Homo sapiens: one gene and its partner. The protein of the gene in region 1 interacts with the protein of each later gene in a pairwise test. Each region holds a gene or a part of one and is shown on either strand. Other genes may lie near its edges. The genes, in order: SH3GL3 and DNAJC5.

Evidence for each region.
Region 2: the proteins of SH3GL3 (region 1) and DNAJC5 come close enough for resonance energy transfer, tested with the Homo sapiens proteins (one study listed by BioGRID).

What each region holds. Positions count from the first base shown.
Region 1 is NC_000015.10:83,446,703-83,459,150, forward strand, and holds the start of SH3GL3 (endophilin-A3), read left to right. Parts: upstream 1-638; 5' UTR 639-831; coding exon 832-876; intron 877-12,448. UniProt on the Homo sapiens protein: Implicated in endocytosis. May recruit other proteins to membranes with high curvature.
Region 2 is NC_000020.11:63,920,997-63,933,444, forward strand, and holds part of DNAJC5 (dnaJ homolog subfamily C member 5), read left to right. Parts: intron 1-5,175; exon of another isoform or gene 5,176-5,991; intron 5,992-6,305; exon of another isoform or gene 6,306-6,326; intron 6,327-7,338; 5' UTR 7,339-7,349; coding exon 7,350-7,456; intron 7,457-8,315; coding exon 8,316-8,529; intron 8,530-9,854; coding exon 9,855-10,026; intron 10,027-10,468; coding exon 10,469-10,572; 3' UTR 10,573-12,448. UniProt on the Homo sapiens protein: Acts as a general chaperone in regulated exocytosis. Acts as a co-chaperone for the SNARE protein SNAP-25. Involved in the calcium-mediated control of a late stage of exocytosis. May have an important role in presynaptic function.

The DNA of each region.
Region 1 (12,448 bases):
TGGTGGACTCCGCCGGATATGCAACGAGCTCTTTATGGCACCTTGGAGATGGTTGCTTTTAGTGCCGTTGACAGCGGGCTCAGAGCACCAAGTGAGCTAGCACCGTATTTATTAGTAAATTACTCCATAACTCTAGGGCTCCCAGAAGACCAAAATCATTTGAGCAGATTGCACCCAGAGCACCGCGTGGAGAGAGAAGAAAGCCCGCCACCCACAGACCGCTTCCTCCTACCACAGGTCCCCCATCGAGTTGCATTTGTTGTCCCTCCCTAGGCGCATTTCTGAGCCTTCCTTTCTTAAACATACACCGAGCGAAAATGCGCCGGAGGGAGGCGATGTTGCCTGTGAGCCAAAGCCGGTTCGGCACCAAGACAGAAGCAGAGAGAACTGATCTCTCTCCCGGTACCCATGACAATCTCAGAGCTAGATCTATATCGTCCCGCGCCCAGCAAGAAGCACTGTGTGACTGTACTCCCCCGACCCCCAGGACATCCCCACGCCCAGCTTCCCAGGCCGGTCTTCTGCGCGGCTCAAGTAGCCCAGGTCTCCACGCAACAATGAAGCGTGGGCGGCCCCAGCAGCTTCATTTGCATATCGCCGCGGCTTGGCCAATGGGCTGCGCAGGGGCTTTGGAACGCAGTGTTGCCATCGGCGTGCGCGCGTGTGTGCGAGTGTGACAGCGGCTGTGGCTGTGGCCGTGGCCGTGGGAGGCGGGCCCGGCGGAGCCCAGCCGCGGGGGGACCGGCCCGGGCTCCCGCTCCCCGAGCGCGTCGCGGCCGCGTGGCCCAGCCGAGCCTTGAGACCACCCCGCCCCTGCCGGTCGCAGTCGCGATGTCGGTGGCCGGGCTGAAGAAGCAGTTCCACAAAGCCAGCCAGGTAGGGAGGCGCAGAGGAGGGAAGGAGGGAGGGGGACGCGGAGGCTGCGGCCCCCCGAGGCTCCCGGGCCTTTGGGACTCCTGTTCCCTGAAGGGCCTCTCTCGGGGCTCAATTTCTTCCCGCCTAGGAGGGCGCGAGGGTGGGGTGAGGGGCCGCCTGCTCTCTCCTCGGCGTCTTGGCGCCTTCTCCTTCCCATTCCCTGGCCCCCGGCTCTGCCCTGGGCCGTTGTAAATCGGAGAGATTCTGCGGAGCGGAGGGCAGAGGTGGCGGCCGCGGGGACTCGGGAGGCGGAGACGGAGTGGGCGTGGGGGGGCCCCTACCCGCGCGAGGGGAGGACGACCACAGGGAGTACGATGCCGGCAGGGCCTCCCCCGAGTCTCCAGCCGTTTGGTTGGGAGAGCCTCGTGGGGGGCCCATCCTCCACCGGCCACCGGCGCCTCCAGAGATGCTGTGTATTTGGCGCTTGGCTGTGTCCCGCTGAGCTCCCCGCGCGCGCATCGAAATGGCCCCGTCTGGACTGTGCCCGGCTCCCCGGCTGGGGCTCTCTACCGCGGTCCTTCCCCTCCCCACCGTCTTCCCGGTGTCGGCCCGGGGCTGGGCATCACGCTTCTGCTCTTACAGAGCTGACAGCCTGCAGGGGAGACACGGAGACAGACACGTAAACAAACAGTGCTAGACACACCTCCACGCACAGAGGATGACAAATAACACAGTGGGGGCGTCAGGGAGAGCTTCCCGGAGGAGGAGACATGTCATTTGAGAATTAAGTATGAGGAAGAATTATGGCTGAGGGTGTGGGATGATAGGAGGAAAGCCGTTCTGAGCAGAGGAAACAGGAAAACAGGAGGGGAGACATGAAATTGATGTGTGTGTGTGTGTGTGTGTGTGTGTGTGTGTGTGTGTTGATGACAAGCAAATTTGTTTTTCAACATCAACATTGCAGGCTCTTCCAGCTATGGCAGAGCTCACGTTGTAAAACCTGTTCCCCACCAGCACCGCTGGGTCTGTTGCTTCTCACCACCTCTCCCCGCAACCCCAGCCCCCATTTTGCTAGAGCCAGGGTAGACAGATTTCATTCAACGTCCACATTTGTGGTGAGGTCTCATCCTGCTTCTCCCACAAATTGGCCCATAGAAAGCAACTGCAATTAGAAGATTCTCTTCTTCTAGCCCCAGTTCCAGGCTGAAAGGCACTGCTGTCCCCTCACTCACACTCTTTCCATATGGAAACTGGGTGATGCTGTTTCTAGCTGGGGGCACTGGGTGGACAGTGGTGCTATTCAAGGTGTTAAGGAGCCCTGGAGGAGAGGCTATTCAGGTGAGGGTGGAGATGATGGATTCACCACTGAACCCAGGGACTTTGAGGGGTCTTTGGGACATTCACATGTCACTGGCCTGGGTTGGGGTGCATATCCTGACCTGCAGCTCAGGGGGTGAGGCTGGTACTGGAGCTACAGATTTTTGGTGATTTCCAGCCTAAGCGGAGATTTAAAAATGTATGTGTAGACAAAAGTGAGAAAAGGCACAGCGAGTTAAAGGCAGACTCTAGACAGCACCCCCATTTAGGGACAATGTTTAGCCCAGTAATTGTTGAGCAGTGACCACTCAATAAATATTTATTGAATAGATGAAATTTTGGGGTGGCACAACACAGGAAAGAAAGAACTCGTAGATGACAGGAGAGAGAAGACCATCATGGAAGGGGGACATTTAAAGGCAGGAGCAATCAACAAGTGCTTCAGTGAGCTAGGTATTGTGGAGTGTCCTCAGCTGGTACAGCCAGGAGGCCGAGTGCTGCTGTGAGCAGAGCAGAGCAGAGCAGTGCCAGAGTAATCGCTGGCTGTACTTGTTACATTGGCTTCCTTAGCACTGGCAGGAAATGAACCTCCTCTTTTGAAAACTTTTCCTTTATTGGGTATGGACTTCACAGGGGCAAATCTCAAAGATAAGCAAATCTCAGAGATAACGTAAGCCCTTGGGTGATTTAAGTTGGTTTCTGACAGTAACCAGAATGAATGGTTGAAATCCTTGGAAGTTATTGGCACTGGAGAAATATTTTGCTAGTCATGGGTAGTTTGGTTTAACTACCTGTAATCAGTACATTAAAAATGAAATGAACAGAACGTCTTATTTAGTCTTTTTTTTTTTTTTTTTCGCATGAGCGGAAATAATTTATGACTTTACCTGAAAGGAGAGGCATCACAGATTCTCTCTGGGCTTCATAGCCATGTTTTGTGGTTAAAAGTACTCAGTAGATATGTTTTAATATGTTCTAGAAGTCTTTCTAAAAAATCTTGCAATGCAACAATTTGGTGGAGAAATCAGACCGGTTTAATATAATATGAGGGAGCTCAATAATAAAAAATGCCAGATGTTTTTCTCAGACAACATTTTAACAGCAGGTTTTAATTCATACAGAACTTACCTGGGGCAGGGGAAGGGAGCCCCAGATGATGTCAATGGCTAAAATAATTTCCAGGGATCTAGGTCTGGCTCAGCCACTGACCAGCTCTGTAACCTTGGGAACATAACTTAACCCATCTGGACCTTGGTTTCTATCTGTATGATGACTCAGGGAATTTAGAAGCTATGTTTCTGTTATAAAAATGATTGTGGCAATGGTTTCACAACTCTGTGAATATGCTGAAAACCACTGAATTGTACACTTTAAGAGAATTGTATGGTATGTGAAATATATCTCAATAAAGTGATACGAATATGTCTCTGTGTCTCTGGGTGTGTGTGTATGTATACATCTCAGTGCTGAAATTCTTAAGTAAGTTAAGCATTTCAGAGTAAGACAAAGATGATAAAGTGGACCTTTTACAGAGAAGGGATCCAGGACCATGGCAAACTGAGATAGTTTTCTGAAAGATAAGCGAGGTAAAATTAGCTATAACCCGGTTAACTGTTCCTTTTTTCCTGATACCTTCCCTATCTCTGGGAAAAAACCCCTACTTTACAGAGAATGAAGACTCGTAAACCCTGGGGATTATGCATCATTTTGGCAGCACATGGAGACCAACAGGAAAGAGGAAGAAATATGCTAAAATGAGAAGAATATAAGTTAACAAAAAAATTTAATTAATTCTAAGTTTCAGCGTTTGAGACTAGAACCCAAATTTTTCTTTTTTTTTTTTTTTCTAATATGCATTATCCTTTATTAAAATGGGATATTTTTCTTTTTTTTTTTTTTTAAGGTTATAGATTTTCTTTTTTTTTTTTAATTTTTTTTTTTCTATTATACTCTAAGTTTTAGGGTACATGTGCACATTGTGCAGGTTAGTTACATATGTATACATGTGCCATGCTGGTGCGCTGCACCCACTAAAGTGTCATCTAGCATTAGGTATATCTCCCAATGCTATCCCTCCCCCCTCCCCCGACCCCACCACAGTCTCCAGAGTGTGTTATTCCCCTTCCTGTGTCCATGTGATCTCATTGTTCAATTCCCACCTATGAGTGAGAATATGCGGTGTTTGGTTTTTTGTTCTTGCGATAGTTTACTGAGAATGATGATTTCCAATTTCATCCATGTCCCTACAAAGGACATGAACTCATCATTTTTTATGGCTGCATAGTATTCCATGGTGTATATGTGCCACATTTTCTTAATCCAGTCTATCATTGTTGGACATTTGGGTTGGTTCCAAGTCTTTGCTATTGTGAATAGTGCCGCAATAAACATACGTGTGCATGTGTCTTTATAGCAGCATGATTTATAGTCCTTTGGGTATATACCCAGTAATGGGATGGCTGGGTCAAATGGTATTTCTAGTTCTAGATCCCTGAGGAATCGCCACACTGACTTCCACAATGGTTGAACTAGTTTACAGTCCCACCAACAGTGTAAAAGTGTTCCTATTTCTCCACATCCTCTCCAGCACCTGTTGTTTCCTGACTTTTTAATGATTGCCATTCTAACTGGTGTGAGATGATATCTCATAGTGGTTTTGATTTGCATTTCTCTGATGGCCAGTGATGGTGAGCATTTCTTCATGTGTTTTTTGGCTGCATAAATGTCTTCTTTTGAGAAGTGTCTGTTCATGTCCTTCGCCCACTTTTTGATGGGGTTCTTTGTTTTTTTCTTGTAAATTTGTTTGAGTTCATTGTAGATTCTGGATATTAGCCCTTTGTCAGATGAGTAGGTTGCGAAAATTTTCTCCCATGTTGTAGGTTGCCTGTTCACTCTGATGGTAGTTTCTTTTGCTGTGCAGAAGCTCTTGAGTTTAATTAGATCCCATTTGTCAATTTTGGCTTTTGTTGCCATTGCTTTTGGTGTTTTGGACATGAAGTCCTTGCCCACGCCTATGTCCTGAATGGTAATGCCTAGATTTTCTTCTAGGGTTTTTATGGTTTTAGGTCTAACGTTTAAATCTTTAATCCATCTTGAATTGATTTTTGTATAAGGTGTAAGGAAGGGATCCAGTTTCAGCTTTCTACATATGGCTAGCCAGTTTTCCCAGCACCATTTATTAAATAGGGAATCCTTTCCCCATTGCTTGTTTTTCTCAGGTTTGTCAAAGATCAGATAGTTGTAGATATGCGGCATTATTTCTGAGGGCTCTGTTCTGTTCCATTGATCTATATCTCTGTTTTGGTACCAGTACCATGCTGTTTTGGTTACTGTAGCCTTGTAGTATAGTTTGAAGTCAGGTAGTGTGATGCCTCCAGCTTTGTTCTTTTGGCTTAGGATTGACTTGGCGATGCGGGCTCTTTTTTGGTTCCATATGAACTTTAAAGTAGTTTTTTCCAATTCTGTGAAGAAAGTCATTGGTAGCTTGATGGGGATGGCATTGAATCTGTAAATTACCTTGGGCAGTATGGCCATTTTCACGATATTGATTCTTGCTACCCATGAGCATGGAATGTTCTTCCATTTGTTTGTGTCCTCTTTTATTTCCTTGAGCAGTGGTTTGTAGTTCTCCTTGAAGAGGTCCTTCACATCCCTTGTAAGTTGGATTCCTAGGTATTTTATTCTCTTTGAAGCAATTGTGAATGGGAGTTCACTCATGATTTGGCTCTCTGTTTGTCTGTTGTTGGTGTATAAGAATGCTTGTGATTTTTGTACATTGATTTTGTATCCTGAGACTTTGCTGAAGTTGCTTATCAGCTTAAGGAGATTTTGGGCTGAGACGATGGGGTTTTCTAGATAAACAATCATGTCGTTTGCAAACAGGGACAATTTGACTTCCTCTTTTCCTAATTGAATACCCTTTATTTCCTTCTCCTGCCTGATTGCCCTGGCCAGAACTTCCAACACTATGTTGAATAGGAGCGGTGAGAGAGGGCATCCCTGTCTTTTGCCAGTTTTCAAAGGGAATGCTTCCAGTTTTTGCCCATTCAGTATGATATTGGCTGTGGGTTTGTCATAGATAGCTCTTATTATTTTGAAATACGTCCCATCAATACCTAATTTATTGAGAGTTTTTAGCATGAAGGTTGTTGAATTTTGTCAAAGGCTTTTTCTGCATCTATTGAGATAATCATGTGGTTTTTGTCTTTGGCTCTGTTTATATGCTGGATTACATTTATTGATTTGCGTATATTGAACCAGCCTTGCATCCCAGGGATGAAGCCCACTTGATCATGGTGGATAAGCTTTTTGATGTGCTGCTGGATTCGGTTTGCCAGTATTTTATTGAGGATTTTTGCATCAATGTTCATCAAGGATATTGGTCTAAAATTCTCTTTTTTGGTTGTGTCTCTGCCCGGCTTTGGTATCAGAATGATGCTGGCCTCATAAAATGAGTTAGGGAGGATTCCCTCTTTTTCTATTGATTGGAATAGTTTCAGAAGGAATGGTACCAGTTCCTCCTTGTACCTCTGGTAGAATTCGGCTGTGAATCCATCTGGTCCTGGACTCTTTTTGGTTGGTAAACTACTGATTATTGCCACAATTTCAGAGCCTGTTATTGGTCTATTCAGAGATTCAACTTCTTCCTGGTTTAGTCTTGGGAGAGTGTATGTGTCGAGGAATGTATCCATTTCTTCTAGATTTTCTGATTTATTTGCGTAGAGGTGTTTGTAGTATTCTCTGATGGTAGTTTGTATTTCTGTGGGATCGGTGGTGATATCCCCTTTATCATTTTTTATTGTGTCTATTTGATTCTTCTCTCTTTTTTTCTTTATTAGTCTTGCTAGCGGTCTATCAATTTTGTTGATCCTTTCAAAAAACCAGCTCCTGGATTCATTGATTTTTTGAAGGGTTTTTTGTGTCTCTATTTCCTTCAGTTCTGCTCTGATTTTAGTTATTTCTTGCCTTCTGCTAGCTTTTGAATGTGTTTGCTCTTGCTTTTCTAGTTCTTTTAATTGTGATGTTAGGGTGTCAATTTTGGATCTTTCCTGCTTTCTCTTGTAGGCATTTAGTGCTATAAATTTCCCTCTACACACTGCTTTGAATGCGTCCCAGAGATTCTGGTATGTGGTGTCTTTGTTCTCGTTGGTTTCAAAGAACATCTTTATTTCTGCCTTCATTTCGTTATGTACCCAGTAGTCATTCAGGAGCAGGTTGTTCAGTTTCCATGTAGTTGAGCGGCTTTGAGTGAGATTCTTAATCCTGAGTTCTAGTTTGATTGCACTGTGGTCTGAGAGATAGTTTGTTATAATTTCTGTTCTTTTACATTTGCTGAGGAGAGCTTTACTTCCAACTATGTGGTCAATTTTGGAATAGGTGTGGTGTGGTGCTGAAAAAAATGTATATTCTGTTGATTTGGGGTGGAGAGTTCTGTAGATGTCTATTAGGTCTGCTTGGTGCAGAGCTGAGTTCAATTCCTGGGTATCCTTGTTGACTTTCTGTCTCGTTGATCTGTCTAATGTTGACAGTGGGGTGTTAAAGTCTCCCATTATTAATGTGTGGGAGTCTAAGTCTCTTTGTAGGTCACTCAGGACTTGCTTTATGAATCTGGGTGCTCCTGTATTGGGTGCATAAATATTTAGGATAGTTAGCTCCTCTTGTTGAATTGATCCCTTTACCATTATGTAATGGCCTTCTTTGTCTCTTTTGATCTTTGTTGGTTTAAAGTCTGTTTTATCAGAGACTAGGATTGCAACCCCTGCCTTTTTTTGTTTTCCATTGGCTTGGTAGATCTTCCTCCATCCTTTTATTTTGAGCCTATGTGTGTCTCTGCACGTGAGATGGGTTTCCTGAATACAGCACACTGATGGGTCTTGACTCTTTATCCAACTTGCCAGTCTGTGTCTTTTAATTGCAGAATTTAGTCCATTTATATTTAAAGTTAATATTGTTATGTGTGAATTTGATCCTGTCATTATGATGTTAGCTGGTGATTTTGCTCATTAGTTGATGCAGTTTCTTCCTAGTCTCGATGGTCTTTACATTTTGGCATGATTTTGCAGCGGCTGGTACCGGTTGTTCCTTTCCATGTTTAGCGCTTCCTTCAGGAGCTCTTTTAGGGCAGGCCTGGTGGTGACAAAATCTCTCAGCATTTGCTTGTCTATAAAGTATTTTATTTCTCCTTCACTTATGAAGCTTAGTTTGGCTGGATATGAAATTCTGGGTTGAAAATTCTTTTCTTTAAGAATGTTGAATATTGGCCCCCACTCTCTTCTGGCCTGTAGGGTTTCTGCCGAGAGATCCGCTGTTAGTCTGATGGGCTTTCCTTTGAGGGTAACCCGACCTTTCTCTCTGGCTGCCCTTAACATTTTTTCCTTCATTTCAACTTTGGTGAATCTGACAATTATGTGTCTTGGAGTTGCTCTTCTCGAGGAGTATCTTTGTGGCGTTCTCTGTATTTCCTGAATCTGAACGTTGGCCTGCCTTGCTAGATTGGGGAAGTTCTCCCGGATAATATCCTGCAGAGTGTTTTCCAACTTGGTTCCATTCTCCACATCACTTTCAGGTACACCAATCAGACGTAGATTTGGTCTTTTCACATAGTCCCATATTTCTTGGAGGCTTTGCTCATTTCTTTTTATTCTTTTTTCTCTAAACTTCCCTTCTCGCTTCATTTCATTCATTTCATCTTCCATTGCTGATACCCTTTCTTCCAGTTGATCGCATCGGCTCCTGAGGCTTCTGCATTCTTCACGTAGTTCTCGAGCCTTGGTTTTCAGCTCCATCAGCTCCTTTAAGCACTTCTCTGTATTGGTTATTCTAGTTATACATTCTTCTAAATTTTTTTCAAAGTTTTCAACTTCTTTGCCTTTGGTTTGAATGTCCTCCCGTAGCTCAGAGTAATTTGATCGTCTGAAGCCTTCTTCTCTCAGCTCGTCAAAATCATTCTCCATCCAGCTTTGTTCTGTTGCTGGTGAGGAACTGCGTTCCTTTGGAGGAGGAGAGGCGCTCTGCGTTTTAGAGTTTCCAGTTTTTCTGTTCTGTTTTTTCCCCATCTTTGTGGTTTTATCTACTTTTGGTCTTTGATGATGGTGATGTACAGATGGGTTTTCGGTGTAGATGTCCTTTCTGGTTGTTAGTTTTCCTTCTAACAGACAGGACCCTCAGCTGCAGGTCTGTTGGAATACCCTGCCATGTGAGATGTCAGTGTGCCCCTGATGGGGGGTGCCTCCCAGTTAGGCTGCTCGGGGGTCAGGGGTCAGGGACCCACTTGAGGAGGCAGTCTGCCCGTTCTCAGATCTCCAGCTGCGTGCTGGGAGAACCACTGCTCTCTTCAAAGCTGTCAGACAGGGACACTTAAGTCTGCAGAGGTTACTGCTGTCTTTTTGTTTGTCTGTGCCCTGCCCCCAGAGGTGGAGCCTACAGAGGCAGGCAGGCCTCCTTGAGCTGTGGTGGGCTCCACCCAGTTCGAGCTTCCCGGCTGCTTTGTTTACCTAATCAAGCCTGGGCAATGGCGGGCCCCCCTCCCCCAGCCTCGTTGCCACCTTGCAGTTTGATCTCAGACTGCTGTGCTAGCAATCAGCGCGATTCCGTGGGCGTAGGACCCTCTGAGCCAGGTGTGGGATATAGTCTCGTGGTGCGCCGTTTCTTAAGCCGGTCTGAAAAGCGCAATATTCCGGTGGGAGTGACCCGATTTTCCAGGTGCGTCCGTCACCCCTTTCTTTGACTCGGAAAGGGAACTCCCTGACCCCTTGCGCTTCCCAGGTGAGGCAATGCCTCGCCCTGCTTCGGCTCGCGCACGGTGCGCACACACACTGGCCTGCGCCCACTGTCTGGCACTCCCTAGTGAGATGAACCCGGTACCTCAGATGGAAATGCAGAAATCACCCGTCTTCTGCGTCGCTCACGCTGGGAGCTGTAGACCGGAGCTGTTCCTATTCGGCCATCTTGGCTCCTCCCCTCAGAACCCAAATTTTTCAAGTGCATAGTTAAATATTTTTTCTCTTGACAAGATTTTTTTGATAGAGCTGTTTACTCTTCTGGTAGAGATGTAGCTTGAGCTATTATAAATAAATACAAATAGCATAGATATGGCATTGTGGTTTCTTGTTAAACGTGGTACCTCACCAATAAAAATATAGCTTACAATATTTACATTTGTGTTACCACTCACTGATTTGTATTTGTATGCTTATTTCATAGTAATTTTTCTTGACAGCATTTATTGTTGAAGAAGGAAGTTCAGGGCACACCTATGTGTGTTCTGACCTGGAAAGTACTAATAGTCATATTCTTTCCATTTCTGGACCTTCTTGTCTTCCAGGGTCCTTGTTCTGCATCCCATAAAAGTCCAGGGACCAGTTTCATCTCTTCTCCTCCTCTCCTTCTCTCCCAAGACTAACCATCTACTGATGACACTTGTGGGCTCCATGTTAAATTTACTTCTTTATGCCTTTTAACTTCTGTCATGTGACTCAGCAACACATGCCAGAGGTTAAAGGACACTGCTTGTAGGGCAGAAAGAAGGGGAGCCTCTAACACAGTGCTTTTTTACAACTTTTCCCCCTTTCTCTTTTAATGCATTAGCCAGAAAAATGATAAGGGGTCATGAGGGGCCTGGACGTATTCCCTGTAATCACTGACTATACAGGCTGGCCATTTAGGGGTAAATGCTTCAGAGAAGGATATTCTTTGTAAATCATGAGATTCTCTAGGGAGGCAATGAATGTCTCTTGTTTCACTATCTCATTAGAGAGAAAGATAAAATGCACTTTGCACAATCCATAATGATTTATTTTTTTCTCTTAGACGCATCAGAAAATATATTAAAGCTAAAACATTCTTGCTCCTTTTCACATAGATTGCTTGATAAACTAATTGATAAATCCTTTTTTTTAAAGTCAGGGTGTGAAGATAGATGTTTAAAATGGATTGATTTTGATTTTTTAAAATATCTTAAGGATATAATACAATCCATATATTTCTTACCACTGAGGACTTTTTGTTCTATAAAGTAAATGTAACTCATGGTATCACTTGGAATTTGATTTAAAAATGCATTTGAAAGCAGGGATTTTTTTCCCTATTGCTTTAGTTTAATTTTTCAGCTTTATTAACAAACGGAATGTAAATTAATTTCCCAAAGTTAAGTGTGTGTGTGGGTATCTCATGTGTATTTGGGGAAGCTATTACTGGCATGCTTTGCCCAGAAGATAGAACTGTCAGTAAACAACTGACACACTGTTCGGCTAAATAGTGAACATATTCTGGAGAATCTTTAGCAGCAAAATGTGGACAGTTAGATTTTGCTTTTCAACAGAAACCTGGGAAAGTGTTGAGCTGAGGGGAGAGTCTGAGAGAAGTACTATTGATGAGATCAGGGAGGCATTGTTTCCAGTTCTAACTATTCTAGTTCTTTGAAATGCTTTCCCAATGGGAATTCCTTCCCAATTTCCAGGGTCATCCCAATGTTTTTACCACACACAGCACCAGCAGCCAGTGGCCTTCCTGAGCCAGGTGTTGTTCCTTCTGACTTCCAAATCCAGTGGATAATGGTGTCTTTTCCCCGTCCCTGGCTACATCTTCCTCAGACAGTAATGCTACTAAGTACTTTGCCTGTTCAAATCATCCATCCGTGGTAGAGGCTGCTGATATTTCAGGCTGGATAACTTGAGTCCTCCCTAGTGAATCTGATATCCGAGTCAAATCTTCTCATCCTTGTCCACCTTTCTTTCTTCTGGGCCACAAATCAAAACTCTGGAGGGTCTTGTGAGCTCATATGTAGTGCTTCAGTGCTTCTCCAGTGCAACAGTGGAAGACACACCTGGCTAGTCACACCATTGTGCTTCCAATCCCATCTCCTCTCATTTTCTCAGGGACTTTGCTCTTGTTGCCATCTCTTCTCTGCACTATTGTTTCTTCTCTCCTGGATAAATTTCACTGTAGGACAAAGAAGGGTGTATTAGTCAGGGTTCTCTAGAGGGATAGGACTAATAGGTTAGATGTATATATGAAAGGGAGTTTATTAAGGAGTATTGACTCACACGATCACAAGGTGAAGTCCCACAATAGGTTATCTGCAAGCTGAGGAGCAAGGAAGCCAGACTGAGTCCCCAAACCTCAAAAGTAGGGAAGCTGACAGTGCAGCCTTCAGTCTGGGCCGAAGGCCCGAGAGCCCCTGGCAAACCACTGGTTTAAGTCCAAGAGTCCAAAAGCTGAAGAACTTGGAGTCCAATGTTCGAGGGCAGGAAGCATCCAGCACGGGAGAAAGATGAAG
Region 2 (12,448 bases), on another chromosome or scaffold:
TTACGCAGACTGGAGTGCAACGGCACGGTCTCAGCTCGCTGCAAACTCCACCTCCCGGGTTCAAGTGATTCTTCTACCTCAGCCTCCTGAGTAGGTGGGATTACAGGCATGTGCCATCACGCCCGGCTAATTTTGCATTTTTAGTAGAGATGGGGTTTCTCCATGTTGGTCAGGCTGGCCTCAAACTCCTGACCTCAGGTGATCCGCCCTCCTCAGCCTCCCAAAGTTTTGGGATTACAAGCTTGAGCCACCGTGCCCGGCCACCTTGTTTGCTTTTTAAAGATAATGATGTCACTAAAAGAGTTCTGACTGAGGCCGGGCCTGGTGGCTCACACCTGTAATCCCAGCACTTTGGGAGGCCGAGGCTGGTGGATCACGAGGTGTGGTGATCAAGACCATCCTGGCTAACACGGTGAAACCCCGTCTCTACTAAAACTGCAAAAAATTAGCCGGGCGTGGTGGCGGGTGCCTGTAGTCCCAGCTACTCAGGAGGCTGAGGCAGAAGAATGGCGTGAACCCGGGAGGCGGAGCTTGCAGCAAGCCGAGATAGTGCCACTGCACTCCAGCCTGGGAGACAGAGCGAGACTCCGTCTCAAAAAAAAAAAAAAAGAGTTCTGACTGAAGGTTGGAACTTAGCCCTCCAGAAATGAAGACTGCGAATAACGCTGATGGCAGCTCGTCACTTGCAGCAGGTTGCAGCACGTGCTGCTCGTGTAGCTGCGGCTGCACACCAGGCCTCTCCTTTAACTGTGTTATAACCTTTCTGTTGACATGGGATCCCCTTGAAAGTTTTTTTTTTGGAGACAGGGTCTCACTCTGTCACCCAGGCTGACGTCCAGTGGTGCAATTTCAGTTCACTGCAACCTCCTCCTCCCGGGTTCAAGCCATCCTCCTGCCTCAGCCTCCCAACTAGCTGGGATTACAGATGCACACCGTCACACCCAGCTAATTTTTGTATTTGTAGTAGAGATGAGGTTTCACCACGTTGGCCAGGCTGGTCTCAAACTCTTGATCTCAGGTGATTCAACCACCTCAGCCTCCCAAAGTGCTGGAATTACAGGCGTGAGCCACCACTCCCGGCCCCCTTGAAATTTAAACCAAGTTTAGGAAGAATGAAGTTGTGAGGTGCTACTTCAAACATCAGGTGGCAAACTCCCGGACTCATTACCCCAAGGAAATAGGCAGTCCAGGTTGGTGGCTCACGCCTGTAATCCCAGCACTTCGAGAGGCCGAGGCAGGCGGGTCACCTGAGGTCAGGAGTTCAAGACTATCCTGGCCAACATGGTGAAGCCCATCTGTACTAAAAATACAAAAAAATTAGCTGGGTGTGGTGGCGCGCGCCTGTAATCCCAGCCACTTGGCAGGCTGAGGCAGGAGAATCGCTTGAACCTGGGTGGTGGAGGGTGCATGGAGCCAAGATTGCACCATTGCACTCCATCCAGTTTGGGTGACAGAGTGAGACTCTGTCTCAAAAAAAAAAAAAAAATAGACATCAGAAAGGGTTGGCTCCTGTGATCTCGGCACTTTGGTGACCATGACCCAAGGCAGGAGGATCACTTGAGCCAAGGAATTCAAGATCAGCCTGAGCAACATAGACCCCGTCTCTGCAAAAAATTTCTAAAAACTTAGCTGGCATGGTGGCTCACGCCTGTAGTCCCACCTATTCAGGAGGCTGTGTTGGGAGGATCACTTGAGTCTGAGAGGTTGAGGCTGCCATGATCCCTTATCACACCACTGCATTCCAGCCTGGGTGACAGAGCAAGACCCTGTCTCCAAACAAACAAAAAAGCAAAAAATGGTGTTTTACCTAGGTATTTACCATTTCCAGTGGTCTTCATTCCTTTCTAAAAATCTAGGTTTTAGCCGGACATGGTGGCTCATGCCTGTAATCCCCAGCACTTTGGGAGGCTGAGGCGGGTGGCTCACCTGAGGTCAGGAGTTCCAGACCAGCCTAGCCAACATGGCAAAACCCAATCTCTACTAAAAATACAAAAATTAGCCAGGCGTGGTGGTACGTGCCTGTAGTCCCAGCTATTCAGGAGGCTACGGCAGGAGAATCGCTTGAGCCTGGAAGGTGGAGGTTGCAGTGAGCTGAGATTGCACCACTGCACTCCAGCCTGGGCAACAGAGTGAGACTCTGTCTCAAAAAAGAAAAAAAAAAGAATAAGTCACATTTTGGTGAGGAGCAGTGGCTTGCACCTATAATCCTGGCACTTTGGGAGGCTGAGGCAGGAGGATCACTTGAGACCAGCCTGGGCAACAAAGCCAGACCGTGTCTCTATAGAAAATTTTAAAGTTAGCTGGGCATGGTGGCACATTCCTGTAGTCTTAGCTGCTTGGGATGCTGAGAAGGGAGGCTTTCTTGAGTCCAGGATTTCAAGGCTGCAGTGAGCCAAGATCGCACCACTGCACTCCAGCCTGGGCAACAGAGAAAAACCTTGTTTCTAAAAAAAAAAATTAGGCTGGGTAGGGTGGCTCACACCTGTGATCCCAGCACTTTGGGAGGCTGTAGCAGGCGGATTGCTTGAGTCTGGGAGTTTGAGACCAACAAGATCCTGACTCTATAAAAATTTTAAAAAATAGCTGGGCGTGGTATTGCACACCTGTAGTCCCAGCTACTCAGGAGGCTGAGGTGGGGGGATCAGCTGAGCCCAGGAGGTCAAGGTTGCAGTGAGCTGAAATGTGACCACTGCACTCCAGCCCGGGCAATAAAGTCAGGCGGGGAAAAGAAAGAATGAGTTAACATTTTCTCAGCTTTATGTGTTGAGTGATTTTGGATTCTATCCTGAAATGGTAAGAATGAAAAGAAAATCTGCCAAGTCCATCCGTTCCTACACTCTCACTGCCTCCAAGTCATTCTGCGCTCTTGAGCCAGAACGACCTGGCCGTTTTTAAAAATGGAGTTTTTTGCCTTAGTAATTGACTTGTGTAAGAGTTCTTTATTCCACTTGTGAATTGTTTTTTATACGTACATAATGTAAATATTTTCTCCCCTTCTGTGCCTTTCAGTATGAATCTATCTGAACTCGATTCTGCTGTTGTGTGTGTGTCTTTTCCTCAGTACCAGATGGTCTTGATTACTGTAGATATATAGTATATGTCTTGAAATCAATAGGGTAAATTCTCTAACTTTTGTTCTTTTTATTAATGTTGCTGTGGCTAATCTGTCTGCTACATTTCCTTATACATTTAAAAAAATCAGTATCAGTTTCTGCAAAAAAAAATCCTCTTGGATTAGGGTTAGGCTTCTGTCAAGTCTACAGATCAGTTTGGGGAGAACTGACTTCTTTATATCGAGGCTTCTAATCCGTGAACATGAGGAATCTTTTTCTTATCTTTAGTATCTTAGCAATTTGTGGTTTTCAACGTACAGATTTCATAGGTCTTGTTATTTCTTTTTCTTTTTTTGAAACAAGGTCTCACTGTGTCACCCAGGCTACAGTGTGGTGGCACGATCATGGCTCACTGCAGCCTCGAGCTTCTGGGCTCAGCCATCCTCTTATCTCAACCTCCTGTGTCACTAGGACCACAGACATGAGCCACCATGCCTATTTAACTTAAAAACAAAAACAAAAAACCGGGCACGGTGGCTCATGCCTGTAATCGCAGCACTTTGGGAGGCCGAGGGGGGGATTGACTGAGGCCAGGAGTCCGTGACCAGCCTGGACAACATGGCAAAACCCTGTCTCTAAAAATACAAAAATTAGCTGGGTGCAGTGGTGCGTGCCTGTAGTCCCGTGCCTGCGGCATGGGAATGGGTTGAGCCTGGGAGGCGGAGGTTGCAGTGAGTTGATGACTTAGGATTTTTCTTCTCGGTCACTTTGCAAGCCGGGGACCCCTGGCCAGTGATGCCCCACCTGGGCCCTGCTTGGCCACACTGGCGTGCCCCAACTCACCTGTGTTATAGCTTGTACTGTGTTCGGCCATTCCCGAGCTCATGTACCGCACTCAAGATCAAGGATACACTGGACATTGAAGGGTGAGGAGGGCGGAGAAGAACTTTATTGAGCAGTGAAACAGCTTTCAGCGGACCAGGGGATGCAGGGGTGGTTCCCCTACCTGAAGGCAGGAAAGTCCGCCTGTGTGGCTGGGTCTGGGGCTTTTTATGGACTCAGGATGCGGAGTGCTTGCAGAGCTTGCTGATGGGTTTGTGAGTATGCAGAAAAGGTTAAAGTGGGCATGACAGTGTAGAAAACCAATTATAAGAGGCCGGGCACGGTGGCTCACGCCTGTAATCCCAGCACTTTAGGAGGCTGAGGCAGACGGATCACAAGGTCAGGAGTTCAAGACCATCCTGGTCAATGTGGTGAAACCCCATCTCTACTAAAAATACAAAAATTACCTGGGCGTGGTTCGCGTGCCTGTAGTCCCAGTGACTTGGGAGGCTGAAGCAGAAGAATCGCTTGAACCCGGGAGGCAGAGATTGCAGTGAACTGAGGTCACACCACTGCACTCCAGCCTGGGCAAACAGAGCGAGACTCCACCTCAAAAATAAAAATTAGGAAAGGGTAGGTATGTGTAAAATAGGTGAAGGATGGGGATCAATCAGAGGAAAGTGTGGCAAACAGGAAGGCAAGTTCTTCATCTAGTCTGAGGATTTAACTTGTAGCTCAGCTGTCAGGCTTTAAACTGTCTTTGGCTTGGAGGTGGGTTTCACCGGGAACCCGCCCCATCTGCCTGGCATTCAGCTGCCTCCTGCCAGTATCACCGAGATCGCGTCACCGCACTCCAGCCTGGGCAACAAAGCGAGACTATCTCAAAACCCCATATTGATGTCATTTCCTAAATATTTGGTTAAAAAAAAAATCTGGGCCTGGAATTTTATCTGGTTTTTTTTTTTTTTTTTTTTGAGACGGAGTCTCGCTGTGTCGCCCAGGCTGGAGTGCAGTGGTGCGATCTCTGCTCACTGCAAGCTCCGCCTTCCGGGTTAACGTCATTCTCCTGCCTCAGCCTCCCGAGTAGCTGGGACTACAGGTGCCTGCCACCACTTCCGGCTAATTTTTTTGTATTTTTATTAGAGATGGGGTTTCACTGTGTTAGCCAGGATGGTCTCAATCTCCTGATCTCGTGATCTGCCCGCCTTGGCCTCCCAAAGTGCTGGGATTACAGGCGTGAGCCACGGCGCCTGGCCTTCTGGGGATTTTTTATTACAAATATAACTTTATTAACAGATGCAGGCCTATTCAGATTTTCTATTTCATGTCAGTCTTGGTAAATTGTAATTTTCAAGATATTTGTCCATTTCATCTAATTTTTCTAATTTCTTGGCATGAAGTTGTTCGTATTTTATCCTTTTCACGCCTCTAGGATCTGTAGTGATGTCTTTCCTCATGTTGCTCAAAGAACCAACTCTTTTGGCTTTGTTGAAGTTATCTGTTTGTTTTCATGGATTTCTGTTCCTTATGATTTCCTTGCTTGCATTTATGTTGGGTTTATCCTGTTACTTTGTAGCTTCCTGAGGCGGAGCCTTAGGCCTTGATTAACGTGTTGTACTAGTCAGCATTCTGCAGAGGAACGTTGCCATTATCTGTGTCTCTTTCTAAAGGAGATTTGTTATGAGGAATTGGCCCACGTCATTATGGAGACGGAATCTCATGCTCTGCCATTTGCTGAAGATTGAGGAAAGCAGTGGGATAATAACAGTCCAAGGACAGGAGGAGACACGTGGCCCCGCTCAGGCTGGCAGGCGAGAAGGAAAACCCAGGCCAACTCCTCCTCCCACCCCTTTCTATTCGGGACCCCCGTGGACTGGGACGACACTCACCTGCACAGGGCAGCGCAGTTGGCTTCATGGAGCCCCCAGCTCAGGTGCTGCTCTTACCAAGAAACACCCTCCCAGGCACACCCTGAAGTCATGTTTCATCTGGGTGCCCCACGATGCAGCAAAGGAGACATGAAATTAACCGTCATGTACACTGTATTTATTATTCAATTCAAAACATTTTCTAAGTTCCCCTGGGATTTCTTCTTTGAGCTACATGTTAGCCGGAGGTGTGTTGTTGAATATCAAGAGTATCTTCCTCCTGGGTTTCCAGTTTGTAGCTAAGTCAGGGATAGTGCTGTGTGTGACCTCATTCCATTACGTTTATTGAAACCAGCTTGAAGCCCTAACATGTGGCTTGTCTTAGTGTACAGCATTCAGTTAAAAACAATGTGTGTTCTCTAGATGTTGGGTGTTCTGTGACTGTCACGTCATGGTGGTTGATTAGTTAGAAACAATGTAGAAACAATGTGTATTTGCCAGGCGCTGTGGCTCACACCTATAACCCCAGCACTGTGGGAGGCTGAGGCAGGCGGATCACCTGAGGTCGGGAGTTCAGCCTGAGGTCGGGAATTCAAGACCAGCCTGGCCAACATGGAGAAACCCCATCTCTACTAAAAATACCAAAATTAGCTGGGTGTGGTGGCACATGCCTGTAATCCCAGCTACTCCTGTGTGAGGCTGAGGCAGGAGCATTGCTTGAACCGGGGAGGCGGAGGTTGTGGTGAGCCGAGATCGTGCCATTGCACTCCAGCCTGGGCAACAAGAGCAAAACTGTCCCCCCCCCCAAAAAAGAAAGAAAGAAACTGTGTGTTCTCTAGATGTTGGGTGTTCTGTGAAGATCAGGTCATGGTGGTTGATAGTGTTGTTCAGAACATCGATGTTTTTCCTGATTTTTGGTCTGTTCTGTCGATTTCTGAGAAAGTATTAAAATTAAAGTTGGGTCTTGCATTTTTATCCATTCTGTCAGTCCCTTACTTTAATTGGAGTTTTTTGTCCACTAACATTGAATTTAATTGTTGATATGTTTGGATTTAGATCTTCCAACTAATTTTCTATTTGTTTCCTGTGTTGAGTTACTTTTTCATTTTTCTTGTAACTTTTTAGCTTATACCTCTTTGCATTTTTTATGCAGAGGTTGCTGTAAGGATTACAATATGCATGTTTATTTTAATTAATTAATTTATTTTGTTTATTTATATATTTGTTTTTAAGGAACAGGGTCCCTGTCTCCTGGGCTCCAGTGCAGTGGAGTGATCATAGCTCACTGCAGCCTCAAACTCCTGGGCTCAAGCGGTCCTCCCGCCTCAGCCTCCCAAAATGCTGGGACTACAGGTGTGAGCCCCTGTGCCGGCCCACAGTACACAGCTGCAGTTCTTCAGGATCTCTTGGGGTGGCCGTATTCTGCCGTCTCACACTTCTCCATGCCATGGCGTCTGTCTGTGCACGTGGCAAACTCCACAAGGCAGTGTTGGATTCTTTTGCTTTGAACGGTCTTATGGAATAAAGTCCATCAGCTCTGCCCTTGGTACTTTCATCTATACTTTGTGATACTTTCTTTTTATTTTTTCTTCTAGAATAGCCTAACATGGCAGACCAGAGACAGCGCTCACTGTCTACCTCTGGGGAGTCATTGTACCACGTCCTTGGGTTGGACAAGAACGCAACCTCAGATGACATTAAAAAGTCCTATCGGTAAGTGGACAAGTGTGGCCCCCACATCCCCCCAGGAAGACACACATGCCCCGTGTGGTTTAGTCTGCATTTTACCAAGAACCATTGCACATACTTTATCCTGGCCGACTCAGCGTTGAACTGGTCACAGCTCGGTAACACCTTTGTATGTGTAATGTGCTCCTTATAGCTTAAAGTTATGGTATTCATGTTCTCTTGCCAACAAAAAATAGCACTTAGTAGAAACTGACACACTGTCCACAGTTCCATAGGGAGTCAGGGTCTGAACCTGTTTGAGGCCTCACAGGAGCCGCAGAGCGCTGGCATGGTCCTGTGGTCTCCTTGTTTTAGCACAGTGATGACAGAGACCCCTCACTCTGTTGTGGCCTTCTGATTGAGCTTGAAGAACTGCACTCTTGGGTACAGTTTCATTGAGTAACCTGTAAGAGACACCATCACTAATCCAGACAATTCAGATAGTCCTCCTCTCGTGTGCTAGCATCGTGTAGTTCATAAAACACTTCTTAAAGTGCCATCATTACGCCCCGCCGTGCTTACCGTTCACTTGGCACTTGTGCAGTTAGCGGCTGGGACACCAGGGCTGGCCTTGGTGCCGCTGAACTTAGATGTGCCGTGGCACTCACAGCCCTTGGGGCTCCCTCCTCTGAGGCTGGGTCAGGGTGAGGAGGTTTACCTGAAACAACCGCGGAGCTTGCTTTTGTCCCTGGCCCCTGCAGCCCTGGAGAGTCGGACAGTGAGGTGGCCTGGGTGGACCTGCCTTCCACTGCACCCGGCAGTGCGTGCGGGTGGGATGGACGCGGCGGCGGGTGCGGGTGGAACAAAGTCCAGGGTAGAGCCAGGACATGGTTTTGGTTTGCAGGAAGCTTGCCTTGAAATATCACCCCGACAAGAACCCCGACAACCCGGAGGCCGCGGACAAGTTTAAGGAGATCAACAACGCGCACGCCATCCTCACGGACGCCACAAAAAGGAACATCTACGACAAGTACGGCTCGCTGGGTCTCTACGTGGCCGAGCAGTTTGGGGAAGAGAACGTGAACACCTACTTCGTGCTGTCCAGCTGGTGGGCCAAGGTGAGGGCGAGCTGCCTGCCGTGCGGGCACCCGAGTCACTCCTGCCGTGCGGGCACCCGAGTCTCTCCTGCCGTGCGGGCACCCGAGTCACTCCTGCCGTGCGGGCACCCGAGTCTCTCCTGCCGTGCGGGCACCCGAGTCTCTCCTGCCGTGCGGGCACCCGAGTCACTCCTGCCGTGCGGGCGCCCGAGTCACTCCTGCCGTGCGGGCACCCGAGTCTCTCCTGCCATGTGGGCACCCGGGTCACTCCACGCCTGCAGGGTTCCCAGCATTGCAGAGCCCATGCGTTGATGCCAGCAACTCTACACTCCTGAGAAAAGGCTTCTGGGCATATGGAGCCTTTCTCCTCACCTGTGTGATGGGCGAAGCTCTGTCACTGGCTTGGTGTCCTGCCTGGAACAAGCCATAGCGTACAGATTGTCCCAGGGAAGAGCCGTGCGGAGCCGCCAGGGTTTCTTCTGTAAATGGCTCCCAGTCCTTCGTGAGACAGGAGGAAATAAGCCTCGATGTTACATCCGCATTTCTTCGTTTCCTCGTTTTGTTCCAAATGTCATATATGAGGCCAGAGGGTTGGAATCACTGCATGGCATTTGTGAGAAGCCTGTATTTGGCTTTGACTGGTCGGCCTCCTCACTAGAATCCTTATAAAGTACTTTTTATTTAGTTAATGTTAGACAGAGTCTCGCTCTGTTGCCCAGACTGGAGTGCTGTGGTGAGATCCTGGCTCACTTTAACTTTGAATTCCTGGGTTCAAGTGATCCTCCCACTTCAGCTCCAGAACTGCAGGAGTTGAGGCGTGAACCACTGTGCCCAGCCTGGAGGCTGCTTTGTTTTTTTTTTGAGACGGAGTCTCGCTCTGTTTCCCAGGCTGGAGTGCAGTGGCGCGATCTTGGCTCACTGCAAGCTCCACCTCCCGGGTTCACGCCATTCTCCTGCCTCTGCCTCCCGAGTGGCTGGGACTACAGGTGCCCGCCACCACGTCCAGCTAATTTTTTGTATTTTTAGTAGAGACAGGGTTTCACCGTGTTAGCCAGGATGGTCTCGATCTCCTGACCTCGTGATCCGCCAGCCTCGGCCTCCTGGAGTGCTGGGATGACAGGCATGGGCCACCACGCCCGTCTTGGAGGCTGCTTTTCTTTAAGCTGCGGGTTTCTTTCTGTCTCTCCTCCTCCCTTCTTCAGTTCTTTCCTTCTGCTTCCTGTCTGGAAGGCAGTATCCCCACCTGGAACGCACCCCCTGCCTTCTGCTGAGGGCATTTGGGAGTCCTGCGCCTCCCTCTCCAGGGGCCTCGGAGGCCATGCAACACCACCTTCTTCTCCCCCCAGGCCCTGTTTGTCTTCTGCGGCCTCCTCACGTGCTGCTACTGCTGCTGCTGTCTGTGCTGCTGCTTCAACTGCTGCTGCGGGAAGTGTAAGCCCAAGGCGCCTGAAGGCGAGGAGACGGAGTTCTACGTGTCCCCCGAGGATCTGGAGGCACAGCTGCAGTCTGACGAGAGGGGTGAGTGCCCGCCCCAGGGCCCGTGTGTGTGTGTGGGGCAGAGCCAGAATGGGCCCTGAATGGTGTCAACCTGTCTTGTCAAACAGGAGGGCACTGACACTGTGCCGCGAGTGTTTGTGGTGGCAGCTGGGACTGTTGAGGTGTGAACGTGGACCCTGAGGTAAAGCAGGCGCATAGAGCTGTCCCCGCCGTGACCTGCGGTAGCCGTAGATCCCAGGGACTGCGAGGCGGGGCAGGGCGGCAGGCAGTTGGGGCGGGGCTGAGGGCCGAGGGCTGGCGGTGACCCAAGGCGACGGAGGAAAGCCGTGTGGGGTGGAGGTCAGCGAGTAGCCTCTCCCGGTGGAGAGTTTGTCCAGGTGCCCGAAAGTCGCTCCACAGGACCAGCGTTGGGTGCGCGCCAGGCTGTGGCCCTCGTGCAGTGCCCTGTGTGCTTGCTTTTCAGAGGCCACAGACACGCCGATCGTCATACAGCCGGCATCCGCCACCGAGACCACCCAGCTCACAGCCGACTCCCACCCCAGCTACCACACTGACGGGTTCAACTAAATCCAGGAGGAGCTGTGGTCAGAGGAGGAGCCGGCGCCTGGCCACGCCAACCTTAGAATCATGAACTGTAGTCACAGAGATGGGAAGGCAGCCTCCTGCCTGCCCTGGCCTTGCTGGGGCCCCTCCTGCCTCCACGCCCACCCAGCGTCGACCCTTGACCCACGAAGTGCGTAGCATGCAGTATTTAAAGCAGTGTAGCTACGGTCTTCTGTTTTTTTCCCTTTTTTAATAGCATGTATGGGGTTCTGTTCCATGTCTGTGTTGTGGACATTCCGCGGCATGACCGCGTGAACTGCACGGTGGAGCTGCCTCAGGGCTGTCGGTCAGGTTGGTCCAGTGAGGGGTGACTGCAGCCGGTCAGGTGGGCGAGGAGAAGGGGGGCTGCCCCTTTCCTACCTGTGCTTGAGGGGCCGGAGGCAGGTGCTGCCTGGCAGAGCTGTGTTACCGTCTTGGCCTCGGGGTCTGGTCCACACTCTGTGCTCCCAGCCTTGAGGCTGCAGTAGGACTCTGATCTCACCTGCCAGAAGAGAGGCGGGGCCGCGTCCTCCTGGCGTCACCGGCGTCACTGTCATTCCTTGGTGTCTGTGCTGGGCATGGTTGGCTTGGGGGTCTGTGGTTTCCTGGGCCTTGTGGCAGGGTTTCTCCCGTGGGAGAATTTGGTGTGGAAAGCATAGGAGGCCCCTTCCGAGGTTGACACCGTGTCCTCCGCGGTGTTTCTCGCCTGGTCGTCTCGTCGTGTGGACGCTGCCGTTCTGGTTCTCGGAGGTGTGTCCTTCGCCGTGTTGGGGTTATTTGTCTGTGTTCCTGCACTTTTCCCGGGCTCTGAGCTGGATTGATGGGGCCAGTCTCCCCCCTCCCATCTTGAGGTCGTTCTCCACATTCCTTCCAGCACACCTGTCCTTTCCATAGCCCTTTTTGGACCTTTAGAACCACAGATGATAGGACCAGCCCAATGAGCCACAGTCAGAGAGTAGATTGTGCATGTGTGAGCACCCAGCTACTGGGGACGGGGGCTCTCCCACGACCCCTCCTCCTGTGTTTGCCAGAGCTCCCATCTGCCCCACTCGCCTTTGCCCCGTCATCGATGATTCAGGCAGAGCCAGATTCGTTAGGTCCCTGGAGGAAGGACTGACTGGACCAGAGGGACCCTCTGGCTCAGGAGGGTTGGGTCCCTGGGAGGCCGGCAGCCAGGCCACAGAATCCACACGTGGACCATTGTGGGTCCCTGGGAGGCCGGCAGCCAGGCCACGGAATCCACACGTGGACCATTGTGGGTCCCTTGGGAGGCCAGCAGCCAGACTACGGAATCCACATGTGGACCATGGGAAGTCAGTCTCTTGCGTGTCCTAGACCTTGTGGGTGGCGCCCTGCATAGGGGAGCAGGGGGAACGGGTCTGATGTCCCTGTGCTGGCTGAGGGCTCAGAGCTGCCCGCACTCCGTAGCTCATGGGATGTGCTGGGCCTGCCTTTGGCGCCATGCTGCAGACTCCAGTGGGCCTGGTTTCTGCAGAATGTCCATGGTGGCCGCTGCAGAGTTGCAGAGGTCCCTGTAGAGATAAAGCTGAGGAGGAGGCTGTGTGTGATGGCTCTGGCTCGGACCAACCAGATGAGCCTCCTGAAGCCCCCTTCCCTGCCTGCCTGCTGACCCGTGGCCCCAGCTCACTCATTGCCCTCAGCAGCCACCCGAGGCTGTGCAGAAGGGTAGGTTCAGGTTGACCAGGAAGCTGCCAAAAGGGACATGGATATGAGGATACATCTGGACGTGCTTAGGAACAGGGTGCTGGTTGAGGGCCCCCAGCTGACCCCTACTGCAGATCCGCATGTGGACCATGAGCCGGCTGCCAGCACTAGGTCCTGGGCAGCTTTGTTTGTCCCA